Linked DNA regions of Homo sapiens: regions 1 and 3 are each linked to region 2. The links come from fine-mapping of genetic effects on plasma protein levels. A gene starts in region 2. Each other region holds a variant in brackets. All regions are shown on one strand. Distances are between the middles of the regions.

Region 1 (2,765 bases), 55 kb after region 2:
CTTAGGGGAGACTATGTGGAATATTCAGCAAATGTGTATGAATGGAGTCGGGGAATGAGTGACGCAGGGCGTGAGCAAGCAACAGGTGAGGAGTAAACGTTTCAAATGAATTGTTAGCTGTGACCACCACTTCAAATGAGAAAGGCTGTGATGTGTAAGACTCAATGATAAAACTCCGTGTATCTTAGTTGAACTAAACTGAAGACAAACACATTTGTTCAGTTCATGTATTTAGTGAGTTTTATTTTTGGAAGAAGGAATGATAAGTTTGATGCATGGAGCAAACATCAGAGCATCAACGGTCTGCTTTTATCAATGAGCTCCAAGCAGAGTCAAATTTTTGAGTTCTGTACGTCAAGAATTAAAAAGCAATTCTGAATTTATTATGACTTTTACTATTAAAAAACGTGTAAAACATACTGCTTCGAAGGTAAATTTTACTTTTTCAGTTCTGTTTACATTCGGAGGACATTATTTGGGATGGAGGAGTACTTCTCCATGCCTGCAACTCATAGGTTTCTAACCTTTAACTCAAATAAAGATTTCAGTTAGTGTCCATCCAATCTGTCCTCCTAAGTTCCACTTTTTAAAAAAATCTCAAAATATCATGTAGTTTATGCTAGGGAATGTGACCTAAAAATAGAAATTACTAAGAACAGGTGTTTGGATTTGTGTTGGAAAGAGAGGAGGAGAGACTGGAACCAGAACTGAGATATGTGTTCTCCTGTAGTACATGGGATTGAATCAGGATTTGTATTAAGCTGGTGGTACAAGGAGAGTTTCCTGGTTATGTTAAATCACTTGACACAGGACATGTGGTTTGCTAAGGCAGGTGCTGAAGCATTGGCACAGATGCACCAAGGGCTGAACTGCGCATTTGGGAGAATATGTCATCTGTGCATGAATCCATCTGAAAAATTCCCATTTGCTAAGGGAAGTCATGTCATTTGATGGGTAGGGCTCTGGGACTCAGATTCCAGATCAGCACAGTGCTACCACAGTCTGATAGTGACCAGGGAGGGTGCCCTTAACAGCTCTTACCTAGGTTTCCGATCTGCAAAAACAATAGAGCACTATATGCTCCGTAGCTCATATATGCAAGTGTAATTTAGGTTGCATTATTTGAGCTGTACATTCCACTTATATAAAATAGGCTTAAATAGCCAAGTTGCATTATCACTTGAGACCATTGAGGTGCTATAAAACAAATAT[A/G]TTAACTGTGTGCAGAAGTATTCATTATTCATCAGTCTGTCTCTTGCATTTCCCCAAGTTTATGGACCCAGTCACTGGGCACAATTTGCATTCTGAGAGCAAGGCATTGTGTAGGAGTCTACAAAAAGACTAGTGATCTATGCCCTTCCAAAGTTTAAGAGAAAAGAATAAATAGATATGCCATGCAAGATATCAAGTAATGAGAGCTGTCGGTATTGCAAGAGACCACACAGGGACAATCAGGGAGGTCTTAAAAGAAGCAGCATTGGGCCGTGTGTGGTGGCTCACTCCTGTTAATCCCAGCATTTTGGGAGCCCAAGGTGGGTGGATCATGAGGTCAGGAGTTCCAGACCAGCCTGGCCAAGATGGCGAAACCCCATCTCTACTAAAAATACAAAAATTAGCCGAGTGTGGTGGCAGGTTCCTGTAATCCCAGCTACTCAGGAGGCTGAGGCAGAGTAACCTCAGGAAGTAGAACTTGAACTCAGGAAGTAGAGGTTGCAGTGAGCCGAGATCACGCCACCGCACTCCAGCCTGGGCAACAGAGAGAGCCTCCATCTCAAAAAAAAAAAAAAAAAAAGCAGCATTGGTGTCACTATTGGTATCACTAGTAGTTAGCTTGAAAATACCATTCAGCTCAACCACAGTCACTGGAGATGCCCCTTTCAGTATTTGATGATGACATGTGCCTCCACCCCATTTGTGGCTGTGCTTTGTCACCAGTCTGGGCCTCTTCCAGTGCATCAGGGAGGCATGTGGTGATTTTTAAAGACTTGAAGAATATTGGAGAAAGCCAGCCCCTCTAACCATCATCTGGACTGGGGATTGTCAGGCTGCTCTCTGGGTAGCTGTGGTAGGTCAGAGCATCAGTTCTTACCAATTTTATTTGTTGTCATTCCTCTTAGGATTTCTTGTCTGTTTCTGTGTCCAACAAGTATTTGAAATCCATTAATATTTGGCCAGACCTTCCCATACACATGCATGCACATATGCATACCAACCATGAATGGCACTTAGGTGTTATATGATTTGACCAAGACCACATTTGGATCCTGGAAGGGAATAGAAGTTTTGAATTTTCCTTTCTGATGTGCACAGTCCCAGGCATTCTGTACAGTTCATGAGGAAGGTTTTACTATCCCATTTTATATATAAAGAAACTGAGGCTGGGGGGGTCAAGTAATTTGCCCAATATCAAGCAGCTTGTGAATGACAGAGCCAAGACCCTGACTGAGGTCCCTGCACCTCCACAGCCCATGCTGTCTCCCATTTTCTTCTCTGCCCATTTCCCTCAGTTCCCCGCAACTGCTGTCTTCAGCTCAGCCTTCTATCTTTCATGGAGGGTGAGCTGTGCTTCTCCAGATGCCTGCATGAAGCCTGCGTCAGGGCTCTGGGCAGCTCAGTCTTACCTGTGGTCGCCATCATTATGCCAAAGGTAGACTTTGCCATCCAGATAACATTGGCCCATGGTTCCTTTAAGAATGTCTCATGTCCTTAACCACTACTGTCTGAACAGCCTGAAATAAGTGATACAGCCTCTACAAACACTTGGC
Region 2 (2,765 bases):
ACTCCAGACGCACCACCTTAAGAGCTGTACCCACTCACCGCGAGGGTATGCGGCTTCATTCTTGAAGTCAGTGAGACCAAGAACCCACCAATTCCAGACACACTATGGGCTCACAGCGTGTACTCGCGCACACGCAGTCAGGTGTGGATGTACACCCGCGCACACCCAGGCACATGTACACCCGCGCGCTCACACACCCCATCCAGCTACAGCAGAATTCTGGCCAGGCTGTTGACCGCACACCTGCTGCCTCCTTGGCCACCCTGTCCACACAGTAGCCCGATCGACCCCCGTGGCGGCCGAGACCCAGGCCCATCCGCAGCCCTGAGACCTCCCTAGGGATTGCACCCAGCAGCCAGTCACCGGCCTCCGCGGCCTGGCCAGTTGAGGGTGGCCGTGACCGCGGGGCCAGGAGCGCCGCCACATCTCGGGGCAAATGGCGCGGGGGAAGAGTTTCCTCCTCAGCCTCCCCGTCTCCGATCGCTCCGCAAACTCCAGAGCGAGGCACGCGCCTTTAAAGGCAGGTCCGCGGCTCTCCCACGTCCTGGCGCCCGGTTTTCCGCACCCAGTGTCCCCACAGCTGTGCCCGGGCACAGAGGCGCGGCCAGACCGCACTCCGCGGGCTGCAGGTGTCCCGGCCTCTGGCGGCGCCGGTGCGGCCCGGAGGTGGGAGCCCGCGGAGCCACTGCAGTAGCTGGAGTCCCGCCGAGTCCCCAGCCCCAAGGCAGGGCAGGAGCGCGCACCGGCCGGAGGTCCATGCTGAGCATCGCCCGCGCCGGTGCCCGGCAGCCTCTCCAACTGTGTGGTCCCCGCGCGGGCAGAGAGGCACGGACTGCAGGCCGTGGGCAGCTCCATCTTCCCGCGTCCTCCTCCTCTGGCGCTGCCCGCTGTCTCCCGCCTTCCCTCTGCTCCCCGCTCGCCTCCGCCTCAGCGCCCCGCTGACCTCGCCTCCTCCCCTCTGCTCTTTGTCCCTGCACTCTCCCCTCCTCGGTCCTCTGACCCCCCCGCCCTCACCTCCTCCCCTCCTCTCTCCCCTGCCCGCCCCGCGCTCTCCCACCGCTCCCGCCGCCCCCGCCGCCGCGGCTGCCACTCCGCCCCCCGCGCCGCACGGAGCTTCAGTAATAACCCCGGCGCGGCGGCGGAGTCGCTGTGGGGAATCCTCCCGCGCTCTGCCTGGGTCGGGTCCTCCCTGCCCGCTCGCACGCTGCCGGCCGGGGACCCTCCGGTGGCCCCTAGCCCCTCGGAGCGCTCCTGGATGAAGCCCCGCGCGCGCGGATGGCGGGGCTTGGCGGCGCTGTGGATGCTGTTGGCGCAGGTGGCCGAGCAGGTGAGTCCCGGGCGCTCCCACCAGCGCGGAAACCGCGGGTCCGGACAGCTGGAGGCGAGTCCCCCGCGGCTCCTCTCCCGCGGACCCCGCCGTCTCACCGCGATGTCGCCGCTGTTTTCCGCAGGCACCTGCGTGCGCCATGGGACCCGCAGCGGCAGCGCCTGGGAGCCCGAGCGTCCCGCGTCCTCCTCCACCCGCGGAGCGGCCGGGCTGGATGGAAAAGGGCGGTAAGTCCGTGAGGTGGGGGCTTCTAATCCTTGCCATTTAGCAGCTCGTAATCTCCGTGCCGCTGGTTTATTAGGTGCTGTGAATGTTCACGACTCTGTGGAACCCTACTTTTAAGATGCTGTTGTGAACTTTTTTTTTTTTTAACTGTATGAGCGAGCCCCGATGAGTGGATTTCCACCAATATTTACATTTTATTCCCTGGCAAAACGGTTTGCCAGAGTTATTGATATAACATTAGGAAAAAGGTGAGGAAGTTCATTTTATTTTATTCTAAAGAGCTTAGGAAGAATCTAAAGCTATTAATGTATGCATCAAAGCCGTCATAAAGAGCAAATTACTTTCTTTTCCGTCCCCTTCTACATCCTCGGATCCTCCTTCCCGTCCCCAACCTTTCCTCCTTCTCCTCCTTTATAGATTAAAATATTCCTCTATCGTTGCTTATTCTCAGTGAAGGAGATAAAAGAAGCGCTTAGCATCTCAATACCAAAGTTAATGCTCCAACAATCAGGGCGTACTTCAAACATAATAGTGCCTGAAATGGCTAATCAGCTGATTGTGACACCATCAGCAACGTTCATATCCTGGGCCACAATTTGACATGAGGGCAAGTCTTATTCTTTTTCAATGCATGCTTTTACTTCTGCCACTTACAAGTGACATTTGGAAATTTGCTGTCTTATGGAAAGGGATCTCTGTGTCTTCATACTGCATCAGGTAAATGAGAACGCAGGTGTGTCGCACTGGTTGCTAGGTGGTTTTTTAACCTGAACCCATCCAATGACAGTTAATAAATATTATTTTGCATTGTTACCAACAATAAATTGCCGTATCAAATGTTAATATTAATTGACTTTTATAGGAAGAACTAGGTTTCATTCTCTCAATGTATTTCCAGAAGATCTAGAAAATTAAAGTTAACAATTCAGAATTTCTCAGTATAGTTATTTCAATTTGATAAAATAACATAAAGGCAAGCACTTAATATATGCATTAACTTTTGAAATTATTCCCTGCCAAATGAGTACACAAATAGTATATAAGGTGACCGGTGTCAGATTGACGCTCACCATAGTACCTTTTTGAGAACCACCAGGGGGCGCTAGGTGCAAATGATATAAAATGTTAAAAAAAATTGTCACAGTGAATTTACAAGAGAAAGTTAATTATCTGTCCATTTACAGACTATCCTCTTGTGGTTGTCCTTGTCCTT
Region 3 (2,765 bases), 14 kb after region 2:
TGTGTCACCTGAACTTTCTCTAAGGGGTAATGACTTTCTCATTGGTTTCCACTTCAGTGCCATCTTCCTCAGCATCTAATGCTGTTTGAGCTTAGTGACCACATTTGCAGTTTGTAATGTTAAATTTGCAGTGTGTAAATATTAAAGCACATATGTGTACTTTATTCCATAATTATTTATTTACAGGTTTTTTAATACCAGACTATGAACTCTTCAAGAGTCGTTTATCATTCATCTTTGTATCCCAAAGTTCTTGTTAAACATTAACCTAAATTCATTTTGTTCTTGTAATGAGTGATTGTATTTCCAATTTACAAACAGAAATCCTATATCTTCTCAACCTCTATTTTTGGGTATTAATAAAGGTAAAATTAGTTTTATAATCCACTTCATCTGATTTCTTGCTATGACTAATGTCAAACACTGTAAATTTTCTTTTGAAGTGTATAGTTTATTAATAAATCGTTCAATCACTAGGGTTTTTAACAAAACTATTTTTTAGAAACTCCATTAGTCAATATTTTTAAGTGAGGGTTGTTTAAAAATGTTTTCTGTTGCATATGATGGGAATAGATTTTTCTTAGGATTTTCTGAAAGTTCTGTACTTGGATTAGAAAAAAATATATATAATCTGTCGACTGCCATTGGCATAAAATCTGCATGAAATTTAATTCGTCTTGCATAAAACATGATGTTTGTCAAGGCATTAATGCACAGGATAGGTATCATTTTTCCTAAAGTCTAATTATTGTTTTCAAAAATGTTGGAATACTTGTAAATGTTGTAATTCTCAGTTCTGTCTATACTCTCACTTGATTTGACACTTATTCAGGGCCCTGGTTTGAATTGTACTGGGTTTTATTTCTACCCACAAACTCCAGGGATTCCCTGGAAATTCTAGTCATTGAGAGATTTTTCTAAAACACTCAATAAATCCTAGGAAACTGTCTGAAATGCTGCCAGATTTTCAACTGACTTTAAAAAATGTTCTTGAGCCAGTATAATAAAATAGGAATAGAGAGGAAGAACCCACATGGGGGTATGATCAGAAGAGATACTATGATTTTTGAAAGAAAGGTGTCACTATCTGAGAAGACTGCTGATGGCATAAGCAGATGAAAATGTCAGTCTTGGGAGGCATGTGAGACAGCTATTAGGTTTTTGGATAAAGAACGGCCAAAGCTGGTGGTGACTAGGAAATTTAAGGTGGTTGTGAAGAAC[T/C]AATTGAAAGTGTAGATAATTTCTTACTTTTCTGCTAATTACATAAGAATAAATATAATAGTGCAATTTGGAAATTAACAGAAATGAATATATTTCATTAGATCAAATAATATTTTATAAGGTAATCTTTCAAGTTTGAAGTGATAACAGATTTTTCTATTAATTTACTGTTAGTTGTAAACAAAAATTAGATGACTAGAGAAATTTAGCTATAAAATCTATGGTTTTGTTCCACTTCTCTCATTTTTGAAGTGATGAAACTGAGATCCAAGTGGAGTGGAGTCACTTGGGCAATATCACAAAGTCGGGTGGAATTCAGACAGGTCTAGGGTGCGTGTCTTCAGATTCTCTGTCCAGCGATGTTTTCACCAAGAATCACTTGATGATATTACTTCATCATCATGAAATAGGGATCAGGTGGCATAGCAGAAGTGAGATTTGTAGAGTTCCATCCTCAGCCTCACAAAGCAGAGTTTAAAAGGATAGTTTGGAGTTAAGAGATGACTTCTTAGTAATGCTCAGACCTGAAACTTGATTCCCTGGGTGTAACAGAAGATGATCCCTGTGGCCACTAACTCTCGGGGATGATACAGGCCTGGGACTGTCTGAATGACAGGATGTCTGAAATCTACTTTTAAAGAGAGTGCTTGCTATCTACTTTTAAAGAGAGTGCTTGCTCAAGCAAAAGTCCAGTACAAAGAGAGTAAAAGAGTCCAAATGAAACCAAGCTCTTGAAGGCAGGATCTTGCTTTGCCTGAGGTTTAACGAGAGCAGCCTGATTGTATCTGCTTAACATGGATATGACCTTTTTTTCCTCCTTAAATGTTACCTTTTAAGAAGGAAGTCCACTGGGTCTAGACAGGAAGCCCACTGGGACAGACAGGAAGTCCACAAGGAACAGATAGGAAGTCTGTTAAGGGCTTCCTTGGCCCACCCATCTAAACTCGCCCAGTCCCTGTTTCATTCCTATCCCTGTTTCCCACTTCCTATCCCTATTTTATTTTTCTGTTTGGCATTTATTATTAACTGTATCAATCACAGTCTAGTCAGGAGACAGAAACCACACAAATTATTTGAAGAGAGAGAATTAATACAATGCATTATGTAGGCATTTGAGTACTGAAAAATTAAACAGAGAATATCAAAGCACCCTAGACAACAACTACAAGAATATACTGCCCCTGGGGCTGAAGAAACTAAGGGGAGAGTTTGGGATTTTCAAAATTCAGACGTTTGGAGCTGGGCCTCAAATCCCTTAGTAGTAGGAGCTAGCTGGTGCTAGGACTCTGAGGGAGAACAGTGTAGCTGGTTCTTTAAGTAAGCTACAAACTAGAATCAGCGGCTGCAACTGGAATGATCTGCCACAGCAAGGGTGAAGTGAGAATGACAGGAACAGGAGGCAGGAAGCCCACTGGGGACAAACAGGAAGTCCACCCCTGGGAAAAACAGGAAGTGAGGGAACAGACAGAAAGTCCACAGGAGCTGACAAGAAGTCCACAGGGGACAGACAGGAAGTGAGGGAGCCAACAGAAAGTCCACAGGGG

Which allele goes with the higher level. Alleles are on the strand shown, and positions count from the first base shown. The strength of an association depends on the size of the effect and on how common the allele is.
For the plasma level of the protein whose gene starts at base 1,118 in region 2, allele G in region 1 goes with a higher level than allele A (weak association).
For the plasma level of the protein whose gene starts at base 1,118 in region 2, allele C in region 3 goes with a higher level than allele T (weak association).

The links. A credible set is the group of variants that fine-mapping cannot tell apart. PIP is the posterior inclusion probability: the model's chance that the variant is causal. The UK Biobank Pharma Proteomics Project read protein levels with antibody pairs (Olink). The fine-mapping took linkage between variants from a reference panel, not from the people measured, so its PIPs are less certain.
Region 1: its variant is the best candidate, but not a certain one, in a credible set for the plasma level of the ADAMTS16 protein (UK Biobank, PIP 0.51).
Region 3: its variant is the best candidate, but not a certain one, in a credible set for the plasma level of the ADAMTS16 protein (UK Biobank, PIP 0.62).

Annotation. Positions count from the first base shown.
Region 1 is chr5:5,194,465-5,197,229 of GRCh38, forward strand. The region is part of intron 8 of ADAMTS16 (ADAM metallopeptidase with thrombospondin type 1 motif 16); the gene reads left to right. Among named protein-coding and RNA genes, the nearest start is that of ADAMTS16-AS1, 20 kb to the left of the region's middle. The variant A/G (reference allele first, on the strand shown) is at 1,213.
Region 2 is chr5:5,139,213-5,141,977 of GRCh38, forward strand. It overlaps ADAMTS16 (ADAM metallopeptidase with thrombospondin type 1 motif 16), which reads left to right and starts at 1,118. Exons shown (of 23, transcript NM_139056.4): 1 at 1,118-1,327; 2 at 1,452-1,554. The coding sequence starts at 1,256. ADAMTS16-DT (ADAMTS16 divergent transcript) reads right to left here and starts at 842. Exons shown (of 4, transcript NR_109915.1): 1 at 744-842. RefSeq lists an enhancer at 324-890.
Region 3 is chr5:5,153,124-5,155,888 of GRCh38, forward strand. All of the region lies in intron 3 of ADAMTS16 (ADAM metallopeptidase with thrombospondin type 1 motif 16), which reads left to right. The region is part of intron 1 of ADAMTS16-AS1 (ADAMTS16 antisense RNA 1); the gene reads right to left. Among named protein-coding and RNA genes, the nearest start is that of ADAMTS16, 14 kb to the left of the region's middle. The variant T/C (reference allele first, on the strand shown) is at 1,222.